Regions from separate parts of the Homo sapiens genome. Here all the other regions are linked to region 1. Evidence: fine-mapped expression QTL. A gene starts in region 1. Each other region holds a variant in brackets. All regions are shown on one strand. Distances are between the middles of the regions.

Region 1 (5,000 bases):
TTTAGAAGGGAAGATTCCAAGTAAGAAGATCAAGTTGTCACACATTAGCTTTTGTAAATAATTGAGTCCTGTTGAATTTGTATAGAATTTACAGTTAAGATGGTATGAAAACTTAGTTGTACATTGGAACTAATTATGCAAGCTCTCAGTATAAAAGGAAAAAAGGGTTCAAGCGTGGTGGCTCACACCTATAATCCCAGCACTTTGGGAGGCAGAGGCAGGAGGATTGCTTGAGCTCAGGAGTTCAAGACCAGCCTGGGCAACATGGTGAAACCCTGTCTCTACAAAAATTAGCCAGGTGTGGTGGCATGAACCTGTAGTCCCAGCTACTTGGAAGGCGCTGAGGCAAGAGGATAGCTTAAGCCCAGGAGGTGGAAGATGCAGTGAGCCCAGATCACATCACTGCACTCCAACCTGGGCTACACAGCCAGACCCTGTCTCAAAAAAAAAAAAAAAGGATGAGCTGCAGGGTGAGAATTGGAGCTGGTAAAGCATTTTTTACCCTTGGGTGAAAAACCTTATTTTACATAGTCGGAACCTGAGGCTGGAAAGCTTAGCAACACCCAGGAAGATGAGACTATCAATATGCTTACAACAAAACTACCAAGACTCAGACGTTTGTAACAAACTCTCCATCTAAAACCAGGCAGAGTGATGTGACTGCAGGAGACCCCCTCCCACACAGATGCCCCCCTCCCCTATTCACGGAGAAAGTAATGGAGAAGCTAAAGAAAGTCAAAGAAGAAAGAAAAATCACCAAGGTCTCAAAACCAGTTAGAACTTGGGAAAATGCCCGCTGACCTATGAAGCCCTCGTGGTCTGAATCAACCATGTTCTCGCAAATCTTGCCTGCTCAAGTTTGTCCGATCATATCAGTTGCATGAATTATGGGCTGGGGTGGGGGATCCACATATGACAGCCTGTTTTATGCTAATGTTTACTTCCAGCCAGACATCATTCCAAGTTACATTCTGTACCTTAACTGATTTCTCCTGAAGCCAACTCTGTGAGGCTGACTGTTACTATTTCTACTTTACAGATGAGGAAACTGGGGCATAGAGAGCTCAAAGGTCCCACACCTGGGTGTGAACTAGCAGTTTCCACTCAGCCAGCAAGGGCCAGCATGCCACAGACTTCCCCAGTGAGAGGCTCTGAACCTCATGGCCAATAAATAAGGACATAAATGTAGCTCTTTTTCAGAAAATACACTTTCCGGAACACTGAAATATAATGCTACATTTTAATGTACATGATTAAAAATATATACCTAAGGTGTTTAAAAAGTAAAACCCTGGCCGGGTGCAGTGGCTCACGCCTGTAATCCCAGCACTTTGGGAGGCCGAGGCGGGCGGATCACCTGAGGTCAGAAGTTCGAGACCAGCCTGGCTATTAAAAATACAAAAATTAGCCAGGCGTGGTGGTGTGCATCTGTAATCCCACCTACTCAGAGGCTGAGGCAGGAGAATCGCTTGAACCCGGGAGGTGGAGGTTGCAGTGAGCTGAGGTCACGCCACTGTACTCCAGCCTGAGTGACAGAGTAAGACTGTCTAAAAAAAAATAAATAAGTAAAACCCACCTTTTCCACACCTACTATGTAAGTAAGAAATCCTATTAACCCGATCATTACCCAAATAGAAAGAAATAATATGGTATTCAAATATTGGTATCTTCCACAGAATTAAAGTTGGAGTTCTTTGCAGCACCGCCTGTTTACCCCTAATTAATTTGGGCGGCTGCCACACACACACACGCACACACGCACGCACACACGCACGCACACACGCGCACACACGCACGCACGCACACACACGCACACACGCACACACACACACGCGCACACACGACACACACGCACAGACGCGCACACACGACACACACGCACACACACGCACGCACGCACACGCACACGCACGCACACACACACGCACACACAAACGCACACGCACACACACACACGCGCACACACACACGCGCACACACACACACACGCGGAGGGCGAGCCAAGGGAAGGGATTCAGAACAGGATACTCAAAAAGAGGAAGAACCGTCGTTTCACCACCCGCCGCAGTGAAAGCTGAAATTAAGTGTCCCCTCCACGACTTCTTCGACCTCTGAGAGAACTTCGAGTGCAGGAACAGTGCTCCACCAAGCCTGCCACCTGCTTTGTCGCGTCCTAGGCTGGGAGCAGTCTGTGGGATGAGTTTCCAGTCCAGCTCCAGGCTGGAGTGTACCCAGGACCTCACCCTACCCCCTACTCCTTCCCAGGGGTCACCCCGGGGAGTGTTCAGGGCTCCCCAACCCACTTCTTCCCAGGAGTCACCCCAGAGCGTGCCCAGGGCTCCCCCCAACCCACTCCTTCCCAGAGGTCACCCCGGGGCGTGCTCAGGACTCCCCTCATCGCACTCCTTCCCAGAGGTCACTTCTGAGTGTGCTAAGGGCTCCCCCCAACCCACTCCCTCCAGGGGTCACCCCGAGGCGTGCTCAACTTCCCAACTTCTTCCCAGGGGTCACCCCGGAGCGTGCTCGGCTCCCCCCGCCCTCCCCAGTCGCTGCCCGGGGCTCAGCGACCGCCGACCCCGAGAGCTGCAGCCTTCACCCAGTGGAAAGCTCTAGGGCCCGGCTCCCACGCTCCCCACTTTACCTCGCAAGGTAACTCACCGCAGGCGCTTGTCCGCACCGCCCAGGCAAAGCAACGCCAGGCAGAGGCAGCCCAGCAGGGCCCCGCGCAGGGCTGCAGGGCGCATGGTGCCGACCTGCGGAGAGAACGCTGCCAGCTGCCGCTCCGGCTCCCACTTCCCACCTGCTGCCCGAGGAAGACTTCCGGGAGAAACGCTGTCTCCGAGCCCCCGCGCCGCCGCGCTCCCTCCGCTGCAGCAGCGGCCACCGGGTGCGCCCGGAGCCCTGGGACGGCCTAAACCAGTATCTCGCGGGCCCCGCGCCGGGCTCCGGGAATGGCCGCAGCAGCCCTGGCGACCCGGGCCCCTCGGAGCTCCCCTTCAGGATCGTGCACCAAGCGCGCACGTCCCGGGCTCTGCTTCGCGACCCACAGCGACCCCAGCTCCTCCACGCTGCAGCCGCCGTCCGCCCACGACCACGGTCAGTCGCGTTGCTCCCAGCCCAGGGCGCCCTGCGGGCCTGCACCGGAGCAGAGAGCCACGCCCCCAGGACGGCACGCCCCCGCCGGTGGACACGCCCCCCAGAACGGCACGTCCCCGCCCGGCGTTCACGCCCCGCCCCGTGGTTGGCTCAGAGAGGCCGAGGCAGGAGCAGCTCCGCGGGCCTTGAGGGCGTGTCAGGCGGCTGTGTTCCTTCGCCACGCAGGCGCCCCGCGCCTTTTCCCGCAGCTCTGCGCCACTCCCACACTCCCGGGTCCGAGCTAACCTAGACCACCCGTGAGGACCGCCCTCGGGGGGACCGCCCGTGTCTGCGCCATCCCCCGCCAGCAAGTGGGCGTGCGGGCCCCAGGGCCACTCTACTCTCCAGGGACAGCCCCCAGCCCGACCCGCGCACCCTGCAGGCCCGCGGTCCGCACGCAGCACCCGCTTTCAAAAACTGCGCCCTGCAAGCTGCCCGGGAGCTCCTGACTGCAGATGGTGCTTGGCCGCCCAGGCTCCCCGCAGCCTCCCGCCACCTCGGCGCTCCACTGCGCAGCCCGAGGGACGGCTCCAGAATTAGGAGGGGACCTACTCGGGTCACTCTCCTGGAAACCTCTCCAGTCTCCCGGTGCTAGGTGCTGGGAGCACCAACATTCCTAGAAGGGCCTGGCCCTCACCCAGCCCTGGGCCTCACCTGCCCCTCCCCGCGGGCCCCAGGAGCCCGGAAGTCATCTCTGTGGGGGCAGCAAAGAGCCGCCTCGGGGCGCGACCTGGGAAGTCATCTTGTGAGGGATCCCCTCCCAGAGGGACGGGCCACCCCCCACGGATGAAGGGGACTTCATGTCAGCCCCACCTTGGCGTAGCCAGGGCCAGTCCCATAGGCCCGGTCTCCTCCCCCAACACCCTGGCCTTCCCAGCCCTTCAGAGGCACGGGTTCCCCTGCACCCGCGGCCCCGCCCACGGGCTGTGCACCCGGCATTGTCTCTGCAGATGTTTCTCCTCTTTCCCTTCCCTGTCCGCACACCCACAGCTAGTTAAGGCTATTCCTATTTACACGTCGAGTAAACTGCGCCTTCCTCGGGGTCCTCTGCCACTGGTAACTGTCTAAATAGCAGGTGGGCCTGTAGCCTGCTCTCCCACAGGCCTGGACCTTGCCTGCATGCATTACCATTCTTTGAAACAAAATATTTAAATGATTAATCTGTTTTTCCCACTAGACTGCAAGGCAAGGCCCATGTCTATTTTGCCCACCTTGAGTCCCTGCCACTGAGCACAGTGGATGGGGGACAGTCGGTGCTCAATAAAATGCCACCTGTGGAACAGATGGGGGGGGAAAATGGCTGACACCTCCTTAGCTCCTCCAGGACCTCCTACAGGTCATGGTGTTATTCTCGTTCTCCTTTTCCCTAACGACTTATTTGTTTCTTTCCGGCTCCTTTCATTCCTTCCTCTCAAGAATATAGGCACACGCCACAGTTCTTTTTCTCTTTTCTTTTAAGCTAAAAAAATAATTTTCTTAAAACAAAAGTGCTTCCCAGAATCCTCATTTTCCTTTAAATCACAGTCCGGTGTGTTTAAACAGCCCCTTGTCAAGGAGGGCTGTTGTGACCACTGCCAAATATAAAGCAAATCTGGACTCGGGGAGGAGTGGTGTTATGAGGACCATTATTGCAGGGGCCTGGGGGCCTTTTGTCCCTACTAAAAATACAAAAATTTGCTGGGCGGGGGTGGCACGCGACTGTAATCCTGTGGCAGGAGGAGCGGCAGACAAAACCTCTCAGACACCGAGCTATAGAAGGAAGGGCTTTATTCAGCTGGGAGCATCGGCAAGCTACTGCCTTAAAATCCGAGCTCCCCGAATGCACAATTTCTGTCCCTTTTAAGGGCTCACAACATTAAAGATTT
Region 2 (10,703 bases), 760 kb after region 1:
TCCTGATCCAAAGCTCTCCCACCTCCAAATAACCTCCCAGACGCACTAGTGAAGGCCCTGGGGAGACGGGAGGAGTTATTTTTAAAAAGAAAAGGAAAAAGAGAACCAGGAGCATTGAGGGCAATGTCATCATCAAAGACGTTCTCTGGGGCTCCAGCAAGCCATGCTGGCCTCGTTGTACAGGCATCACATGGTGACTTCAGGCTCTTAAATATTCTGTCTTCTCTCATGGAAGCTTATCACAGAGAGAGCACGGGCGAGCAATTACCTCCTCCTAATTTCCATCACATCTTGGCACCTTCCATGCAGCTGGGGTTATCTTTGTGATGCACGCTTTTTATGAATAATGAGAGTCATCGGGAAGCAAGTGCTCACCAGGGGACAGACGCAAACAAGTTTCCATCCCTTCTCCCTTTCACACACGGATGGCAACCCCAGTTCCCTTGCTGGGTCTTTCCTGGTGGGTTTTGCAGTCACACAGCCTGCGCCATAGCATGTGTGCCTGCAGACCCCGCACCCGCCGGAGAGAGCCCAGCAGAGCCGTCTTAGTGATGCTGAGAGCCAGCTCCTTCTCTGTGTTTCAAGGAAAAGTTCCCAAAGAGACCTTGCCAAGGAAATGAAGCCTCACTACCTGGAATTTTCATAAAACAAAGGAAGAAACATAGAATTCTAGAAAGTTAGTTGGAAATGTAAGTATAATGACAGGTTTCAGGGGAGTTAGGGATCGTTCTGAACTTTTATAATTCTCAATATGATGGCATTATTATATACTAGGGGAAAAAATCAATGTGACAAAACCAGAATTAAACAGAAATGTCACGTGTTGATGTGCAAATTGGATAATGTGCACAATGAAGTCAGGTCATTAGAATTTCTCCATAAAGGGTAGAAAGCTAAGTCCAATCAATGTTTTTAAATAATTACTTCAAATTCTAGTAAGTGATGGCCTGTCCCTCTGGGTCACCTAAGTATGGTCTATTAATAGAAGTTCACAAAAAAGTGAGGAAGTGAAGAGTAATGATATCAGAAGTAATGATCTGAATATTTCATTTGTATGTTTTGCAGTTGAGGGTTGCTGCGGCGTAGGAGAACAGGCCGCGCATTTGAGGGAAAAAGAAGAATTTGGCTCCAGACTGGCTTCTCAAACAAGCCGTGTAATTACCCTGAGCCTGTGTGCATGTGGAGACGAAGCTGGCTGGGAGAGGAGCTGAATGACATGCGGGAGGCGGTGGGGCTCCTCTTTCCCTCCTTGGGGGTTGACTGCAGCTGAGGTGACTGAACAAAGTTCTTTATTTTTCCTGTAACCCACTATTTATAAAGCTTTCCACTTCTGGCTATTTTCTGAGCCCAGGTAGCTACTTAATTTATGCACTAGACATAATCTGGAAGTGGATTTTCATTTAGGTAACCATGGCAGGCACATTGCCACCATCATTCAGGCTGGTAGCATCCCCACCTGAGGGGTAAGAGACCGAATCATGGAGCGTTTGCACGAGTGGTGGACTCAGGATGGGACCCCAAGCCTTTTGCTTCTAAATCCACAGCTTGTTTCCATGAGAATTCACTTACTGAACTTGCACTGATGTGTTTGTTCACTGCATGTGTGTTGTCTACTAGGTGCTGGGCACAGTTGTGAACTGAAGAGAATCAAAACCCTTCCTTCGTGGAATTTGCACTCCAACAAGAGAAACAGATAAGGAGCAGGAAATAGGAACACAGCGTAGGGTGTGAACAGTGACAGTAAAGCTGGCGGAGGTGCCAGGGAGAGCTGCAATTTGAAATGAAGTGGCCAGGGTAGGCCTCACCAGAAGCCGCAGCTGAGCAGGGGCGCTGAGCAGAGATGTGCTTCCAGGAGGACCCTTCTAGGCAGAGGGAGGTGAGAATGGAGAGATAGGGCCTGGGGAACTGCCTGTTATTCTGAAAGAGAGAGTAAGCCATTGTGGGTATCCCCTTGCTGAGAATAAGCAGAGGTTAAGCAAGGAGACTGAGAAATAGAAGCCCGTTGCATAATGGAGGGGGAATGAGGGTGGCTGGGACTGGTGGGGAAGTTGGAGCAGCAGCGGGCTCTGGGTCTGAACTGTGAAAGCGGAGACAGAATTTTCTGACAGCCTGGATGTGGGCGTGGAGAAGGAAAGGGGCCAGGGTGGCTCCTGGGTTGGAAGTTCCTCCCCTGGACAGGCTGGGATAGGGAGGCTGCAGGTGGCGCGGGCTGGGTGAGGGTCCTCAGTGGGTGCCAGCACAGCCGTCCCTCTCCCATGGACCCGCTGCCTGCTGGCTTCTGCCCGCCCCGCCTCACCCACCCCCAGCACTCAGTGCTCTCCTTGCCTCAGAGCCGGCCTGATTCTGCCAGGCCAGGTGCACTGCCAGGGCTAGGATGTGGATGGCAGGTGGCACGGGCTGGGTGGACAGGGAACACCTGTGAGCCCTCCCATCAGGGAGGCTGAGATGGGGTTCGGAAGATAGGTCCGGAAGAGAGAGGCATCAAGGTCATCAACGCATGAAGGGGTTTAAACCCACAGCCTGGACAAGACCACCAAGAAGGGAAAAACAAGGCCCCAAGGACTGACGCCTGGACCACGGCCACTGCGAGAGGTCGAAGGACCCAAAGGGGCAGCAGAGGAGGCAGACGTGGGCACGCTGGTGGGGAGGCAGCAAGAGCCCTGGAGGGTGGGGCACAGGAAGCCACACAGGCAGGAGGTTGGAAGCAGGCTTGCCAGGCACTGGCCTCCACTTCAGCCCACGGCGTCCTGGGCTGCACTCTTACTACTTACCCAAGTCCAGGGAGCCAGGACCCCTCCCACACAAGCTACGTGAAGCGGGTGACTACTTATATATAGGCATCGAGGAACCGCAGGAGCCCAGGGCTCATAGCCAGGCAGTCCCCCAGGCTCAGGGAAGTGGCTGGGGCAGAGAGGTCTCACCTGAATGTGCTCTATTTGCACTGTGGCTGAGGACCCCAGAAAGCATCCCGCCCTGGGTTTTATACCTTGGCGTTCCAGGACTCACTGGGGTAAAGCAGGCAAGGCCATCCTGGTTTTGGAAGGGCTGGAACAGAGCGAGGCTATTGCAGCCAGCCCCTCCCATCTCAGGACCATGAATTCCCAGCATATTCTGCAGGGACTCGGGGGAGCACAGTGAGAGGTAGAGAGGGCTGGGTCTGTCTGAGGCCATGCAGGCGTCTCCAGGGGCAGAGACCTGTGTATCAGAGGCTGGTGGAAGACACCTGGGAGGAAGCCTAGGAATTGAGCATTGTGGAAATGACCTTTACATTTTACATTATATTTAAAACACACTAAGGGTCCTTCTCCAAATAAAGCCAGACCACAGAAACATCCTGCAAAACCTAATAAAACTGAACAATAAGCAACCAGTGAAAACCAGTTTTAAAACACTACAGTAACATCCAAAAAAGAAAGGCTAGCTTCATGTCATCATCTTTTAAAAGTGAAGTCCAGGAGGAAAAAGTATGGGAATCAACAACAGCCTCCTGTCCCTGAGAAATAGAACCTTGGGGAAGAGGGTAAGCGGATAGCATTCTGAGCTTTTTCACGAATAAACCTAAATTCGAAAAGAAACAACTGGTCAGCAGTTGAAGGAGAGTCTCTGGGGTTAAAGCCCTCACCTACCTCTTACCTCCGAGGAACCCCAGAGATGAGCAGGAGGAGGAGCTGGAGAGGAAAACGAGAGGACCGACTGACCGCAGTTGTCCAGGGCGGAATATTCTATAGCAGCAAACACATTAGGATGGAGGGAAGGAATTGGAAAGAGAACAAGACCCCTTCAGGCACAGGGATCCTCAGGACATCCAGGGGCAACTCCCCCCTGCCCCATCCCCCTCTTTCTCTGCTTCCATGGGGATGGGAGGAGCCCACACAGGGGTCCTTGTATCTGGCAGAGAACAAACTCCTTCCTAAATCGGGGCAATAAGCGGACACCCAAGGGCATCGCCTGCAGAACGGGCTGTGCCCTGAGCTTGCAAGAGTTCCTCCACCGTCCCAGACTACTAACAAAATTGCACAAAGATGAGAGCTTCCAGCTGTACCTTCAAGCCCCACCAGAGCAGGGAGGATACAGAACCCAACAGTCCCAGGGAAGTTTCACATTCTGTTTAGGCAGAGAGAAGATTCACAGGGCTTCCCACGTTGAGTGAGCTGAAAAGGAAGGAAAGCAGGAAGGGAGGGAGGGCGGCTAGAAGAGAGAAAGGCAGGCAGACAGGCACAGGAGTATCTAGACATAGTACAGCTGAGAAGAAAAAAAAAGAGAGAGAGAAATTGC[G/A]TGCAAAACACAAAGGTTAAACCTACTGTTGCAGCATATTGCAAGAAATTTTAAAAAGCTTCCAATAATAAATAATGTGAAAGTTAGCTAAAAATAAAGAGAGTAAGAAGTCGCTGAGAAAAGAATTCAAAAATGAAATGAGACAACTGGAATAAAATGCAAAGAAAAATTGAAGAGATACAGAAACAAATTGAGGCTACTAATTCTTCATTAGATAAATAATACCTATATCAGAAACCACAAGGAGCCGGATAAACACAGCTAAATCCTGATTAGGTACATGCAGAAAGGGCTTATTGATAATCACAGATAATGCAATGAAAGAAAGGACAAGGGAAAAGAAAGGAATTTTAATTGGAACCACAAGAATATTTGAGCGGCTTTCTCTGAATTTTTATAGGTTTTAAAAAGTGGTCAAAAATAACAATTTCATATGATTCAACCTAATTAAATATGAAGATGAGCCCAATACAGGGACAACCGGTATATCTGAAACAGAAATAAATAGAACAGAAAAGAATATATAGATAAAATTGGAAAGATGTTCCTCAACAAGCCAAGTCTGCATCTGCAGATTAAAGGGACATTTTTCCCCTGTTCTAGGAACAACCGGCTCACAACCATTCCTCACCGAGACACGCCCGAGTGGGGTCACTGAGTCTCCAGGGTGAGAAAATGTCATGTGAGTGTCCAGGCTGGGGAAAAGCCTCCTACGAGGCAGAGGTGTCCCCTGCCCAGCTACGCTCACACCAGGCATTCCAGGTCAGGTACCGGCTCCTCCTGAGGGAAAAGACACCCAAGAGTGACGGCGGACCCTTGAACAGCTCGTGGGGTAGCAGTGTCGACGCCCCATGCAATAAAAAAAAAATCAGCTTAACTTTTGACTCCTCAAAAACGTAACTCCTCATAGCCTACTGTTGAGCAAAAGCCTTGTTGATAACATACACAGTTGATTAATACCTATTTTATACGTGATTTATATCATATACTGTGTTCTTATAATAAAGTGAGCTAGAGGAAAGAAAACGTTATTAAGAAAATAGTGAGAAAGAGAAAAGACATTTACTATTCATGAATTGGGGATGGATCGTCATGAGCTCTTCATCCGCGTCGTCTTCACGCTGGGGAGGCTGTGGAGGAGGAGGAAGAGGAGGGTGGCAGAGGGGGAAGAAAATCCACATATAAGTGGATCCGCACAGCTCAAAACCCTGTTGTTCAAGGCTCAGCCATACATAGAACCTGCTAAGGTGTATTCTCAACCACAGAAGAATTCCATCACTATAGCACCCAGGAGCCCTTCTCGAAAAAAAAAATACTTGATGACAAAAATTTAGCCATACAGCAGTTGAATCATAAAAATGTTAAAATTCAGGCATGAAGAAGCTGGAAGGAAAGAATGCTGAATGCATTTGAATATGGAAGGGTCTCACATGAAATACATGGTAATTGTGGCACGGAACAAAATGTAGATGATATAAAATGCAAGTCTGTAAAAATAGTCTACGAACAAAAGTCATGGGGGAGGAAGAAAAGTGGGTAGGAGATATGAATTGTGCAAATTCAAGGGGAAGAAATCAACAGATCTTTTTAAAGTTATAACATTAGATTTAAAAAAAAAAAAAAGGTTGACCCTAACCCCAACTTTGTAGCTTAACTTTTTGAATTTTAGATTTTTAGGAAAAATCACTAATATCACTTATAAAGAAAACACACATCTTCACTTATCCATTTCCTTCATGTTCAGTTTGAGATTCATTTTCTTTAGTTAAATACAAGTAATGTTAAATCGAATACATGATGTATTTCATTTGTGTAAAATTATTTCTATCTACTCTTCTGGGAGAATATACACATGGCAAAAGCTCTAAAATGATGTTTATGAAACATTAACCGTAGTGATCTGCAAGAAGTGTGGTGATTCCTCCAGAGCTAAAAACAGAACTACCGTTCAACCCAGCAATACCATTACTGGATATATACCCAAAGGAATATAAATCATTCTGCCATAAAGACACATGTGCACCTGTGTTCATACCAGCACCATTCACAGTAGCAAAGATATGGAGTCAACCTAAATGTCCATCAATGACAGATTGGACTCTGAAGATGTGGTATGTATACACCATGGAACACTACACAGCCAGAGTAAAGAGCAAGATCATGTCTTTTGTAGGAACATGGATGGAGCCAGAAGCCATTATCCTTGGCAAATTAACGCAGGAACAGAAAACCAAACGCCACATGTTCTCACTTAGAAGTGGGAGCTAAAAGATGAGCACTCATGGACACAACAAGGGGAACAACAGAGACTGGGGCCCATCAGAGAGTGGAGGGTGGGAGGAGGGAGAGGAGCAGAGAAAATAACTATTGGGTACTAGGCTTAGTACCGGGGTGATGAAATAATCTACACCACAAACCCCCATGACAAGTTCACCTACATAACAGACCAGCACATGTACCCCTGAACCTAAAATAAGAGTTAAAAAAAAAAGTAGTGATTTCCAGATGATGAGACTGGGAATACATTTTTGACTTTTTGTACTTTCTGTTTTCTTGATCCACCCCTGTCCCCTGCCAACAAACAGATAACATTCTCCTAAGCAATAGTTATTTCCTAATGAGAAGAGAAGGAAGTCCTCCAGCAGCAGCCCCGCTCCACTGCTCCTCGTGCCCACCTGGGCTCATCTCCTCCAGGATCAATTCACTCATCACCGTGGTTCACAGCTGGGCTGCTCCTCCCTCTCCACCTTCTTTTTTTAACACAGACCTTGTCCTCTCCAGCAAATTGACATAGTCTGGGAAGATACCTCTTAGTCAAAAATGTCCTTTTGTTAAGCAAAAGACAATAATTACACCAATGGAATACTGATCAGTGAAGAGGTGGCCTGGCTAAATTACAGTGTTTAGAACAAAACTAAACACAGCAACCAAAAGGACTTCAGTAAAGTAATTATGATTATCCACAGAGGTCTGACCTGGACACTGGACAACTCTTCCTTCTGCCTCCACCTCACCTGGGTGCTTGCGCCCGAGGGCACCTGCATAGAACAGGCAACGCACGCGGCACTGAACCTTCATCCCCCAGGGTCCTGTGGAAACCTTGCTATGTGCCAGGCCCTACACTCAGCTCTGGATACACCAGGGCAAATGAAGCAGTCTAGCTAGGCAGACAAACAGACTGTCCAGGTAAACGGGCTGCCATGTGGAAGCACATAACACACACGGAGCCAAGGCGTCTCGCACTGGGCCAGTCTAAGCTGAGTCCAGGGCTGTGGAAAGAGGGTGGAGTGGAGAGAAAGAGGAGACAAGGCAGATGGAACAAGGGGAGAAGCTCTGTACCTCACAGTCAGGTGCTCTCTACCGTGTATCCAATAGCTATTCTTCTCTTTTAATCACAAAACTCCTATATGTTAGAAACAGTAAGGTGCCCTTCTTAAGAAACTAAATTTCCTGGCTCCCTAGCAATAGAAAGTTGTTGGGTGGGGCTCCCAGGAAAGCCACTTGAAGGGGACAGATTCAGCTAGTTGGAATGCAGATGTGATGGCTACAGCTGCAGCGCCATTTTGCAACCATGAGGAAATTTGGAGACTAGAAGCTACACATTAAGGACTATGGAGCAGAAAGACAGAAAAATCTGGATCCCTAATAACAAGCAATGGGAGTGAGATGAAGGGCAACAAGCCAACCCCAGACTGCCTACCTCTGGGTTTCTTCTATGTAAAAGAAATATCATTTATCCAGCTGAAGACTCTCTTAGGTGGGATTTCTGCTACCTGCAGCTGAACCTAATCCTGAGTGATCTAGCTTAACAGCCGTATTAAAAGGTTAGCTATTTTTAGCATGATCACCGTTACCCTAACTCCTCATCTATTTCCCTTGCCCTAGGCTCCTACAGAATTTATACTTTGCACTAAATAATTTACTCTGGAATTATTTGTATATTTATTATTTATTAACTAACTGCATGATGGAGTATTCCCACCCTACAATAGGCTCATAAACTCCATGCATGAAAATAAACATCATTTATCCAAGCCTACCTCAGGGCCGAGCACATGATAGGTGACATGGTTTGGCTGTGTCCTCACCCAAATCTCCTCTTGAATTATACCCCCATGATTCCCTCATGTTGTGGGAGGGACCCAGTGGGAGACAGTTGAATCATGGGGGCAGTTTCCCACATACTGTTCTCGTGGTAGTGAATAAGTCTCTCAAGATCTGATGGTTTTATCAGGAGTTTCTGTTTTTGCCTCTTCCTCATTCTCTCTTTGCCTGCTGCCCTCCATGTAAGACAGGACTTGCTCCTCCTTGCCTTCCGCCATGATTGTGAGGCTTCTCCAGACACGTGGAACTGTAAGTCCATTAAACCTCTTTCTTTTGTAAATTGCCCAGTGTCGGGTATGTCTTTATCAGCAGAGTGAAAACGGACTAATACAATGAGCTACTCCCTAAGTGCTGGCAGGACTGACACCATGATTCCCCTTCCTTTATCTGTCCTCTTGGTCACAGCTGTTTTGCTAAGAGGAGGGAAAGCATGTCTTGTGATCCACTCACCAGCCCTGTGATGAGGGTCTTATATCCGCGTGGTAGAGATGAGGAAGCTGAGGCTCAGAGATGTCAAGTCACAGACCCAGGGTCACTCGGCAAGAAAACAGCAGAGCTGAGTTTCACAGCCCTGAGCATGCTGGCCTGTCCACACCACCGCAGGGGCCTCCTGGAATTCACGGTGTCCATGTCCCTAAGGAACTAGTTTTACTCTGAGGAAGAGGTTTGGTGGGTGCACATTTCATTAGAGGGTGGGAACATGAAGATTATTTTTATTTTGCTATTTTATGTTCAATCTAAAACAGACGGAAAGTCTAATTAACTCCCACGCCTTGCCTTGCCATCCCCGGGCAGTGGTCACCTCACGGAGGAACAAGAACCTAAGACCACATGGAATACTATGCAGTCATAAAAAAGAATGAGTTCATGTCCTTGGCAGGGACATGGATGAAGCTGGAAGCCATCACCCTCAGCAAACTAACACAGGAACAGAAAACCAAACGCCACATGTTCTCACGCATAAGTGGGAGTTGAACAATGAGAACATGTGGACACAGGGAGGGGAAGATCACACACCAGGACCTGTTGGGGTGGTGGGCAAGAGGAGGGAGAGCATTAGGACAAATACCTAATGCATATAGGGCTTAAAACCTAGATAAGTTGATCAGTGCAGCAAACCACCATGGCACACGTATACCTAGGTAACAAACCTGCACGTTCTGCACGTGTATCCCAGAACTTAAATCAAAATTTTAAAAAAAGAACTGGGGACTTGCATCTCCGTCCTTCCTGCCTGTCGCCTGGCAGACCCCGTCGCTGAAGGCAGCAGTTGGATTTGTCTCGTTTAGTCGCTGCCTTTCTCCTCTTTCTGAAGGATGAGCTGAGAGTTTCGAGTTCCACGGAGGCCTGACTGCCGTCTGGCCGCCTTCCTGGGGATGCACGCCGCGTGGAACCAGCTGGGTTTCTCTCACCGTTCTCCAGCACTGCCCAGACCAGAGGCGCAGGGAGAGGAGGGGTCAGCGGTTCCGCGACCACTCCTCCCGCTGTCCCTGCTCTCCAGCCTCTGCCTCTGCAGGAGCCCGCGGGAGCTGCCCCAGGCCCCCTGTCCCCACCTGTGGCTCCCGTCCTGGTCGCCTCCCGGGGCCGCGCCTGCTCCCCACACAGCGCTGCCAGTGCTGGAAGGCGAGACTCTATCTGCTGTCTCTGCAGGTCTCCACTGTTCGCCTGTAGCAATGGCTTAACAAAATATCTGCTCTTTTTAATTAAACTTTGACACACCCTAAAGAATGCACCAAGGCCCAGTTGCCTACAGTTCTGGGCTCTGCACTTCCCCGCATGGTTTGTCTCTGACCCTACAACACGTTTTTTAAATTAGTATCATTATTAATGGTCATATTAATTTCCAGAACGGTCAATTTTCTGCCAAGCTTAAAATTTAGTAATAGCCTTTGGAGCAGAGGTTCGAATTCTTTCTCCGCGTCCTCTGGGACCGCTGACACGGACGCCCCAGGCCCGTGGACTTCCCTCTCCCACTCTCTTTCCTCCTGGGACCGCACCCGGGGCTTGTGGGCAGATTTACAAAATGAGGGAAAGGAATGTTATTGCTGACCCAGAAGAATTCTGTTCTAACACAAAGGAAAATAACTGAAATGGCAGAAAATCTTTCGACAGTAAGAGGCCCGGTCCGGGGACCCTGGCCTCCAGCACAGAGCTGCTTCGTGGGTTTTACATGGATGGGATTTTGTCCTTCAGTTGTCAGGCAAGGATGGCGCACCGTGGCCCAGCAGTCCGCGTGGTTTTGTCCAGCCAGCGAGGTATCCCTTGCACTGTGTCCTGGCAGGAGAACCCTCTTCCTGCAAGGAGCACATTGCGAGTCATTTGAG
Region 3 (10,703 bases), 130 kb after region 1:
TTAGATCCCATTTATCAATTTTGTCTTTTGTTGCCATTGCTTTTGGTGTTTTAGACATGAAGTCTTTGCCCATGCCTATGTCCTGAATGGTATTGCCTAGGTTTTCTTCTAGGGTTTTTATGGTTTTAGGTCTAGCATTTAAGTCTTTAATCCATCTTGAATTAATTTTTGTGTAAGGTGTAAGGATGGGATCCAGTTTCAGCTTTCTACATATGGCTAGCCAGTTTTCCCAGCAGCATTTATTAAATAGGGAATCCTTTACCCATTTCTTGTTTTTGTCAGGTTTGTCAAAGATCAGATGGTTGTAGATATGCGGCATTATTTTTGAGAGCTCTGTTCTGTTCCATTGGTCTATATCTCTGTTTTGGTACCAGTACCATGCTGTTTTGGTTACTGTAGCCTTGTAGTATAGTTTGAAGTCAGGTAGCATGATGCCTCCAGCTGCGTTCTTTTGGCTTAGGATTGACTTGGCGATGCAGGCTCTTTTTTGGTTCCATATGAACTTTAAAGTAGTTTTTTCCAATTCTGTGAAGAAAGTCATTGGTAGCTTGATGGGAATGGCATTGAATCTATAAATTACCTTGGGCAATATGGCCATTTTCACGATATTGATTCTTCCTACCCATGAGCATGGAATGTTCTTCCATTTGTTTGTATCCTCTTTTATTTTGTTGAGCAGCGGTTTGTAGTTCTCCTTGAAGAGGTCCTTCACGTGCCTTGTAAGTTGGATTCCTAGGTATTTTATTCTCTTTGAAGCAATTGTGAATGGGAGTTCACTCATGATTTGGCTCTCTGTTTGTCTGTTATTGGTGTATAAGAATGCTTGTGATTTTTGCACATTGATTTTGTAACCTGAGACTCTGCTGAAGTTGCTTATCAGCTTAAGGAGATTTTGGGCTGAGACGATGGGGTTTTCTAGATATACAATCATGTCATCTGCAAACAGGGACAATTTGACTTCCTTTTTTCCTAAGTGAATACCCTTTATTTCCTTCTCCTGCCTAATTGCCCTGGCCAGAACTTCCAACACTATGTTGAATAGGAGTGGTGAGAGAGGTCATCCCTGTCTTGTGCCAGTTTTCAAAGGGAATGCTTCCAGTTTTTGCCCATTCAGTATGATATTGGCTGTGGGTTTGTCATAGATAGCTCTTATTATTTTGAGATACGTCCCATCAATACCTAATTTGTTGAGAGTTTTTAGCATGAAGGGCTGTTGAATTTTGTCGGAAACCTTTTCTGCATCTATTGAGAAATCATGTGGTTTTTGTCGTTGGTTCTATTTATATGATGGATTACGTTTATTGATTTTCGTATGCTGAGCCAGCCTTGCATCCCAGGGATGAAGCCCACTTGATCATTGTGGATAAGCTTTTTGATGTGCTGTTGGATTTGGTTTGCCAGAATTTTATTGAGGATTTTTGCATCGATGTTCGTCAGGGATATTGGTCTAAACTTCTCTTTTTTTATTGTGTCTCTGCTGGGCTTTGGTATCAGGATGATGGTGGCCTCATAAAATTAGTTAGGGAGGAATCCCTCTTTTTCTATTGATTGGAATAGTTTCAGAAGGAATGGTACCAGCTCCTCCTTATACCTCTGGTAGAATTCGGCTGTGAATCCATCTGGTCCTTGACTTTTTTTGATTGGTAAGCTATTAATTATTGCCTCAATTTCAGAGCCTGTTATTGATCTATTCAGAGATTCAACTTCTTCCTGGTTTAGTCTTGGGAGGGTGTATGTGTCAAGGAATTTATCCATTTCTTCCAGATTTTCTAGTTTATTTGCGTAGAGGTGTTTATAGTATTCTCTGATGGTAGTTTGTATTTCTATGGGATTGGTGGCGATATCCCCTTTATCATTTTTTTATTGCGTCTATTTGATTCTTCTCTCTTTTCTTCCTTATTAGTCTTGCTAGCAGTCTATCAATTTTGTTGATCTCTTCAAAAAACCAGCTCCTGGATTCCTTGATTTTTTTTTAAGGGTTTTTTTGTGTCTCTATTTCCTTCAGTTCTGCTGTGATCTTAGTTATTTCTTGCCGTCTGCTAGCTTTTGAATGTGTTTGCTCTTGCTTCTCTAGTTCTTTTAATTGTGATGTTAGGGTGTCAATTTTAGATCTTTCCTGCTTTCTCTTGTGGGCATTTAGTGCTATAAATTTCCCTCTACACACTGCTTTAAATGTGTCCCAGAGATTCTGGTATGTTATGTCTTTGTTCTCATTGGTTTCAAAGAACATCTTTATTTCTGCCTTCATTTCGTTATGTACCCAGTAGTCATTCAGGAGCAGGTTGTTCAGTTTCCATGTAGTCGAGCAGTTTTGAGTGAGTTTCTTAATCCTGAGTTCTAGTTTGATTGCACTGTGGTCTGAGAGACAGTTTGTTATAATTTCTGTTCTTTTACATTCGCTGAGGAGTGCTTTACTTCCAACTATGTGGTCAATTTTGGAATAGGTGTGGTGTGGTGCTGAGAAGAATGTATATTCTGTTGATTTGGGGTGGAGAGTTCTGTAGATGTCTATTAGGTCCGCTTGGTGCAGAGCTGAGTTCATTTCCTGGATATCCTTTTTAACTTTCTGTCTCATTGATCTGTCTAATGTTGACAGTAGGGTGTTAAAATCTCCCATTATTGTGTGGGAGTCTAAGTCTCTTTGTAGGTCTCTAAGGACTTGCTTTATGAATCTGTGTGCTCTTGTATTGGGTGCATATGTATTTAGGATAGTTAGCTCTTCTTGTTGAATTGATCCCTTTACCATTATGTAATGGCCTTCTTTGTCTCTTTTGATCTTTGTTGGTTTAAAGTCTGTTTTATCAGAGACTAGGATTGCAACCCCTGCCTTTTTTTGTTTTCCATTTGCTTGGTAGATCTTCCTCCATCCCTTTATTTTGAGCCTATGTGTGTCTCTGCACATGAGATGGGTTTCCTGAATACAGCACACTGATGGGTCTTGACTCTTTATCCAATTTGCCAGTCTGTGTCTTTTAATTGGAGCATTTAGCCCATTTACATTTAAGGTTAATATTGTTATGTGTGAATTTGATCCTGTCATTATGATGTTAGCTGGTTATTTTGCTCGTTAGTTGATGCAGTTTCTTCCTAGCATCGATGGTCTTTACAATTTGGCATGTTTTTGCAGTGGCTGGTACCGGTTGTTCCTTTCCATGTTTAGTGCTTCCTTCAGGAGCTCTTGTAAGGCAGGCCTGGTGGTGACAAAATCTCTCAGCATTTGCTTGTCTGTAAAGGATTTTATTTCTCCTTCACTTATGAAGCTTAGTGTGGCTGGATATGAAATTCTAGGTTGAAAATTCTTTTCTTTAAGAATGTTGAATATTGGCCCCCACTCTCCTCTGGCTTGTAGAGTTTCTGCCAAGAGATCCGCTGTTAGTCTGATGGGCTTCCCTTTGTGGGTAACCCAACCTTTCTCTCTGGCTGCCCTTAACATTTTTTCCTTCATTTCAACTTTGGTGAATCTGACAATTACGTGTCTTGGAGTTGCTCTTCTCGAGGAGTATCTTGGTGGTGTTCTCTGTATTTCCTGAACTTGAATGTTGGCCTGCCTTGCTAGATTGGGGAAGTTCTCCTGGATAATATCCTGCAAGTGTTTTCCAACTTGGTTCTATTCTCCCCGTCACTTTCAGGTACACCAATCAGACGTAGATTAGGTCTTTTCACGTAGTCCCATATTTCTTGGAGGCTTTGTTCATTTCTTTTTATTCTTTTTTCTCTAAACTTCCTTTCTCACTTCATTTCATTCATTTGATCTTCCATCACTGATACCCTTTCTTCCAGTTGATGGAATTGGCTACTGAGGCTTGTGCATTTGTCACGTAGTTCTCATGCTGTGGTTTTCAGCTCCATCGGGTCCTTTAAGGATTTCTCTGCACTGGTTATTCTAGTTAGCCATTCGTCTAATCTTTTTTCAAGGTTTTTAACTTCTTTGCCATGGGTTCGAACTTCCTCCTTTAGCTTGGAGTAGTTTGATTGTCTGAAGTCTCCTTCTCTCAACTCATCAAAGTCATTCTCCGTCCAGCTTTGTTCCGTTGCTGGTGAGGAGCTGCATTCCTTTGGAGGAGGAGAGGCATTCTGATTTTTAGAATTTTCAGTTTTTCTGCTCTGTTTTTTCCCCATCTTTGTGGTTTTATCTACCTTTGGTCTTTGATGATGGTGACGTACAGATGGGGTTTTGGTGTGGATGTTCTGTTTGTTAGTTTTCCTTCTAACAGTCAGGACCCTCAGCTACAGGTCTGTTGGAGTTTGCCAGAGGTCTACTCCAGACCCTGTTTGCCTGGGTATCAGCAGCAGAGGCTGCAGAACAGCGGATATTGGTGAACAGCAAATGTTGCTGCCTGATCATTCCTCTGGAAGTTTTGTCTCAGAGGAGTACCTGGCCGTGTGAGATGTCAGTCTGCCCCTACTGGGGGGTACCTCCCAGTCAGGCTACTTGGGGGGTCAGGGACACACTTGAGGAAGCAGTCTGTCCGTTCTCAGATCTCCAGCTGCATGCTGGGAGAACCACTACTCTCTTCAAAGCTGTCAGACAGGGACATTCAAGTCTGCAGAGGTTTCTGCTGCCTTTTGTTTGGCTATGCCCTGCCCCTAGAGGTGGAGTCTATAGAGGCAGGCAGGCCTCCTTGAGCTGCGGTGGGCTCCACCCAGTTCGAGCTTCCAGGCCACTTTGTTTACCTACTCAAGCCTTGGCAATGGCGGGCACCCCTCCCCCAGCCTCGCTGCCAACTTGCAGTTTGATCTCAGACTGCTGTGCTAGCAATGAGTGAGGCTCCGTGGGCATGGGATTCTCTGAGCCAGGCACAGGATATAATCTCCTGGTGTGCCGTTTGCTAAGACTGTCGGAAAAGTGCAGTATTAGGGTGGGAGTGACCCGATTTTCCAGGTGCCGTCTGTCACCCCTTTCCTTGGCTAGGAGAGAGAATTCCCTGACCCCTTGTGCTTCCCGGGTGAGGCGATGCCTCACCCTGACATGAAACTATTTTTTAAGGGCATAAACAGTGTCTACTTTTACACATGATTTCCAGCAGTAAATCAAAAAATGACAGTTAAGAAAACAAAATAAAACAAAAACAAAAACAACTCATAGTCAACTTATAAAGCAATCAATCAATAGAACCAGAATTCAAGATGGCCCAGATGTGGGAACTCTAAGACAGGGGCTTTAAAATAACTCTGATGAGGCTGTGCATGGTGGCTCACACTTGTAATCTCAGCACTTTGGGAGGTCAAAGTGGGCAGATCACCTAAGGTCAGGAGCTCGAGACCAGTCTGGCCAACATGGTGAAACCCCATCTCTACTAAAAAGACAAAAATTAGCCAGGCGTGGTGCTGGGTGCCTATAGTCCCAGCTACTAGGGAGGTTGAGGCAGGAGAATTGCTTGAACCCAGAAGGCAGAGGTTGCAGTGAGCCAAGATTGCACCATTGCACTCCAGCCTGAGCGACAAGAACAAAAACTCCATCTCAAAACAAAACAAAAACAAAAACAAAACAATACAAAAAAGCCCTGAAGAATTTGTTAAATGATCTAGAGGAAAAGGCATATGGCATACATGAACAGATGGGAAATTTCAGCAGAGAGATAGAGAGTATAAAAGACATGTGGGAATGCTACAAAAAATATATAAGACATAAAGAATTCCTTCAGAAAGCTTATCAGTGAACTAGTCTCAGCTGAAGAAAGATTAAGGAACTTGAAGATAGGTCAACAGGAATCATATAAAATGACACACAAATAACATAAAATGGGCTGGGCACAGTGGCTTATGCCTGTAATCCCAGCACTTCAGGAGGCCAAGACAGGTGGATCACAAGGTCAGGAGTTCAAGACCCGCCTGGACAACACAGTGAAACCCCATCTCTACTAAAAATACAAAAATTAGCCTGGTGTGGGGGCATATGCCTGCAGTCCCAGCTACTCGGGAGGCTGAGGCAGGAGAATTGCTTGAACCCAGGAAGCGGAGGTTGCAGTGAGCCAAGATTACACCACTACACTCTAGCCTTGGCGACAGAGTGACACTCTTGTCTCAGAAAAAAAAAAAAAAAAAAAACAACAAAAAAAAAAACATAAAATAGAGGGAAAAACTCTGTCTAACAAGGCCT[C/G]CAAGAGCTGTGAGATCATCTAATGTACATGCAGTTGGAGTCCCAGAACAAGCAAACAAACAGCAAGGAATAAAACAGAAGAAATATTTAAAGAGATAATTTGCAAATATAATGCAAGACAGCAAACCTCAGGTCCAAGAAGCTCAGGGAATCCCAACAGTATAAATACAAAAACAAATAAAAAATCTCCATACCAAAAAAAAAAAAAACCCCACCTAGACACATAAAATCAAACTTTTTAAAACCAAAGATAAGGAGAAAATGTAGAATGCATTTGGGAGTTGTGGGGGACATTACATACCCAAGAAGAAAGATAATTGTAATAGATTTCTTGTCAGACATGTAAGCTGGATGTTAATGAACTGACATCTTAAAGTACTGAAACAATTAATCCAGAATTCTATTATTCTATTACAGATCCATTAAAATATTGTTTTAAATTAAAGGCAAAAATAAAAGCTTTTTAGACCCTGAAAAACTAAGATAACTCACTGCTGAGAGACTTGTGCTACAATAAATGTTAAAGGTAGTTCTTTAGGCTATAGGAAAATTATACCAGATAAAAATTTGGGGTTACACAGAGAAGTGAGCACCAGAAATAGTAAAAGTGGATATTAAAAACATTTTCTCATGGCTGATTCTTTAAAAGACTGTCAACTATGGTGGCCAGGTGCAGTGGCTCATGCCTGTAATCCCAGCACTTTGGGAGCCTGAGATGGGCAGATGGCTTGGGTTTAGGAGTTTGAGACAAGTCTGGGCAACATGGTGAAACCCTGTCTCTACAAATAATACAAAAATTAGCTGGGCATGGTGGTGTATGCCTGTAGTCCCAGCTACTCAGGAGGCTGAGGCAAGGAGGTTGAGCCCAGGAGGGTGAGGTTGCAGTCAGGCATGACTGCACCACTGCACTCCAGCCTGAGCAACAGAGTGAGACCCTGTCTCAAAAAAAAAAAAAAAATTGTTAACTAAATTAAAAATAGTAAACAGGGTTTATGACAGATGTAGAAATAAGATACATGAAATCATTTGCACAAAGTGGAGGAAGGAGTTGGAACTATCTAATGTCATAAATGCAAACTACTAAGGAATGATAATATTCTGAAATTGTCAGTTTTTTTTAGGCAAAGTAATAATTTCAGATCAGTTGCTAGTATCAATGAACTATCAATGTTTGAAATGTTTTCAGTATAAGTAGTTCAAGGGTCAGTATGAAACTTAAATTTCGAGGGAAAAAAACTAACATCATTTAATTCTGTGGTTTTCAGATTTAGCTAATATCAGAATCACCTGGAAGAGTTTGTTAAGCAAAGTTTCTGAGCTTTCTGGGCACTATCCCTGAAAAGTCTGATGTCACACATCTCCTGGAGGTAACGCCTCTCTGTTTAACAAGCAGCCTCTGCAGCCAACAGGTTTTGCTTCTCTGGGGAGGAAGTTGACCTCAGCTGCAGTGACCTTCCTGGAGAATTAAACAGAGGGGTGCAGATCCTTACACATGGCCCTCTACCAGGATGACGACCTCCCTCTAGAACAGGAGATACTAGTTTTACTGGTTAATGGCAGAGCCGAGTCAGGGGAGGCCAGAACCAGGCAGAAGTAACTTGAGTTTTCAGCTCTGGAGAGACTGCAGCCTTGGTCAAAGCCAAGAAAATCCCCGTCCTTGCGTTATTGAAGTGGTCAGTGTGAAGAAACAAGAACTCCCCAGACACTGGATCTCTTTGATTGATCTAAAGACCTTTCACTCCAGGCACATGGGGCCCATGAAAACTGTGGGCCCAGCAGCATATCACACCAGCCTCTTGGTGTGGTGCTCTCTGTGGTTCAGAATAGGAGCCTCTCGGGTCACTGTAGGACCCCACCGGCCCCTTTCCTCCAGACATAGGCCACAGATCAGCAATGTATTTTAAGCGACCCCGTTGGCGTTGGGCCATGTGTGTGGCATCTCTGTGGCAGCAGGTGGCCACATGCTCCTGAGTCTCAGACTGGAGGTGAATAGGGCAGCAGAAGAAGTCACCAGTGTTGAGCCAAGTCACAAAGAATAGGGCCAGTGGCAAGGGTGATGAATGGGTCAAGGGGATTGTAGTCAAGGAGCTGTGGGCCAGGGCTGGGCTCCATGCAGGATTGTGCCTGGGGGACCATCGTGGGAAATGGCTTCCTTTGAGCTCCTCAAATGGAAGCAAGAGTCAGCCTGGTTTTCTTCCCTCCAGGGAGCAACACAGAAAGGATTTTCTTTCTTCCACACAAGAGGAAGTTTTTAGGCTCTGCCAAGTAACCAAAGTAATAGAAACTGTGATGTCTCCAGAACTAGCCTCCAACTTCCTCCAGGTGGCAGGAAGGGGAGCAGCCACCTCGCCTCTGTGGCTGCTTTGTTTTTCCCTTCTTTTCTTGTTCCTCCATAGCCTACTTCCTCCATTTTGGGGTTCCTGTATGTAAAGTACTCATTGACCCAGAGATTGTATCTCAAAACCTTGTACCCAAAGGAGCAATTTTCCTGTGAACGTTCCCAAGACAGCGTTCCCAAAAGGTGTTACCAGCCTCAAGTCAGCAATCATAGTGTGGAACGGCGGTTTAGTTGTTGAGTGGAATCTCTTAGCAATCTTCCGACAAGCTGGATCAATCAAGTGAAGCTAGATTTCTATTGTTGATTTTGTTGTTTGTATGTTCTCATGACTTAGGCATGACCTATGTGCCTCTCCTCCTCCAGCTCTCCAATTTTCGCCATCCACTGTGTGTCAGACTCAGGCCTTTGAGGTGCCTGCATCTCTATATACCACACATGAGGCAGGTAGGGCTCAGAAAGATTAACAACTTTACACACATCACCCCATTAGGAAGTAGTAGGGTCAAGAGTCGAGATTCAAATGCTGATATAATTCCCAAGTCTGTGCTCTTAACCAGCAATATCATCTTCAAGTTCAGCAAAGAGTGTTTTGTGTTTCTCTATCCAAATGATGCCCATCTACTCTGTACCATCTATGAGCGTACACCATCTATACTCTCATATCCTCACGTGCCCATTTTTCCTGTAATTCCACTTCTTAGGCTTGTTCCCTTTAATACTATAACCAAGCGAGGGAATTTCCACTTTAAAAGGGAATTTGAAAGAGTAGAGTCTCATGTGACTTCCATTCATTTCCCTGACCTGTAGTTGTCCAAGGGACAGAGGGCGTCTTTGCATGTTCAGTCAGTCTAAACAGCTTTATTTGGCAAGATGTTTACCAGTTTCCATGGTCTTTGGCAAGATGTAAACATGGGCAGAGGGTCCCGAGTAAGAAGAAGTTGGAAAGGAAGTTGCCTGGCCACCGATGAGGCTTCGCGTAACTGTTCCACATAAAGGTCGTCTACTGTTTTTTTTTTCTCTTTCAAGTTAAACCTCTTCCCCTTTTTAGATGACAAGTCACAAAGCTGATCTACCCCAGATTGTGGCAACCTCACCCTATCTATACATCAGCTAAAGGCTGATCGAAGATCAGGTCTAAAGATTGTTGCAAAAAATGAGATAAGCTTTTAAAAAACCCCAGATTCTTTAATTTTGTATGTCAGTCATCAAGTCTTCATTCACACGCTCACTCAGCAACTCTTTCTTGAGCGCCTGCTGTCTGCGCTAGACCCTGGGTAGGCAGGAATGCAGGCTAAGCGCCTTCTCTATGGGGCCTTACATCCAAGCGACAACGTGCCAGGAGGGGACCAGTGCCCAGGAGAAAAGGAAGCAGCATCAGAGCCAGGAAGGGAGTTGGGATCGGGAAGCTCTTTTAAGCTGGGTAGTCAGGGAAGCTTGAACTGAGACACCCAAGGGGCCGACAGTGTGGTTGTCTGGAGAGCAACCTGGGAGAGAAGCAGCAAGGACCAGGGCCCTAGAGCAGGGACCGGCTGGACAGATCCCAGACACAGTGTGATTGCCGGGGCAACTGGCATAAACAACAGAGCTGGGAAGGACACAGGGCAGCGGGAGGAGAGCAGGGCAAGGGCGAGGGCTCCACGGGGCCTCTAAGTCATGGGAGGACACAGGGCATTATCCTGGCGCATGTGGGGTGCCCTGGGGAGCTCAGAACAGAATCCAGACATGATTTGAATCATGCTAAAGCTTTGCCTTCTCTGGAGGGCAAAAGTTTGGGGCAGGAAGGAGTGGGAATGACTGGCTATGAATGTGGGATATACACTATTAATACATCCTGGAGATGGCCAGGAACATTTGCTGATTTTGCTGACGTATTTGATGTGGAGAAAGAATCCAAGCACGACTGCAAGGTTTGGGGCCTGAGCAGTTGGAAGGACTGACTGTTGCTTTGATGATAGCACATGTCGGAGGAACAGGTCTGGGGAGTGAAATTGAGTTTGGCTTCAGATCTGAGACTCTTCTGAATACTCTGAGTGGGGGTCGGCGTCTGGAGTTCCACAGGAGGCTCTAGGCTGAAGACAGCGTGTAGGAGTGGAGTCGGTTAATATGATTATTAACTGGATAGTGTCTTCCCAAAATTCATGTTCACGCAGAATATTATTTGGAATATTATTTTATATTATTTGGAAATAGAGCCTTTGCAGTTGCAATTAGTTATGGGACTCAAAGTGAAATTATCTTGCATTCAGGGCAGGCCTTATGAAAACA

What was found. PIP is the estimated chance that this variant, and not a neighbour inherited with it, causes the effect.
Region 2: its variant is the best candidate, but not a certain one, in a credible set for the expression of RNASET2 in monocytes (Quach 2016, PIP 0.62).
Region 3: its variant is the best candidate, but not a certain one, in a credible set for the expression of RNASET2 in transverse colon (GTEx, PIP 0.82).

The regions. Positions count from the first base shown.
Region 1 is chr6:166,953,439-166,958,438 of GRCh38, forward strand. It overlaps RNASET2 (ribonuclease T2), which reads right to left and starts at 3,112. Exons shown (of 9, transcript NM_003730.6): 1 at 2,659-3,112. The coding sequence starts at 2,744. RefSeq lists silencers at 2,878-3,637, 3,678-3,777, 4,048-4,097.
Region 2 is chr6:167,710,245-167,720,947 of GRCh38, forward strand. No RefSeq gene overlaps it. Among named protein-coding and RNA genes, the nearest start is that of LINC02487, 19 kb to the left of the region's middle. RefSeq lists enhancers at 2,162-2,730, 2,731-3,299. The variant G/A (reference allele first, on the strand shown) is at 4,276.
Region 3 is chr6:167,081,941-167,092,643 of GRCh38, forward strand. No RefSeq gene overlaps it. Among named protein-coding and RNA genes, the nearest start is that of CCR6, 36 kb to the right of the region's middle. RefSeq lists an enhancer at 10,441-10,500. The variant C/G (reference allele first, on the strand shown) is at 6,101.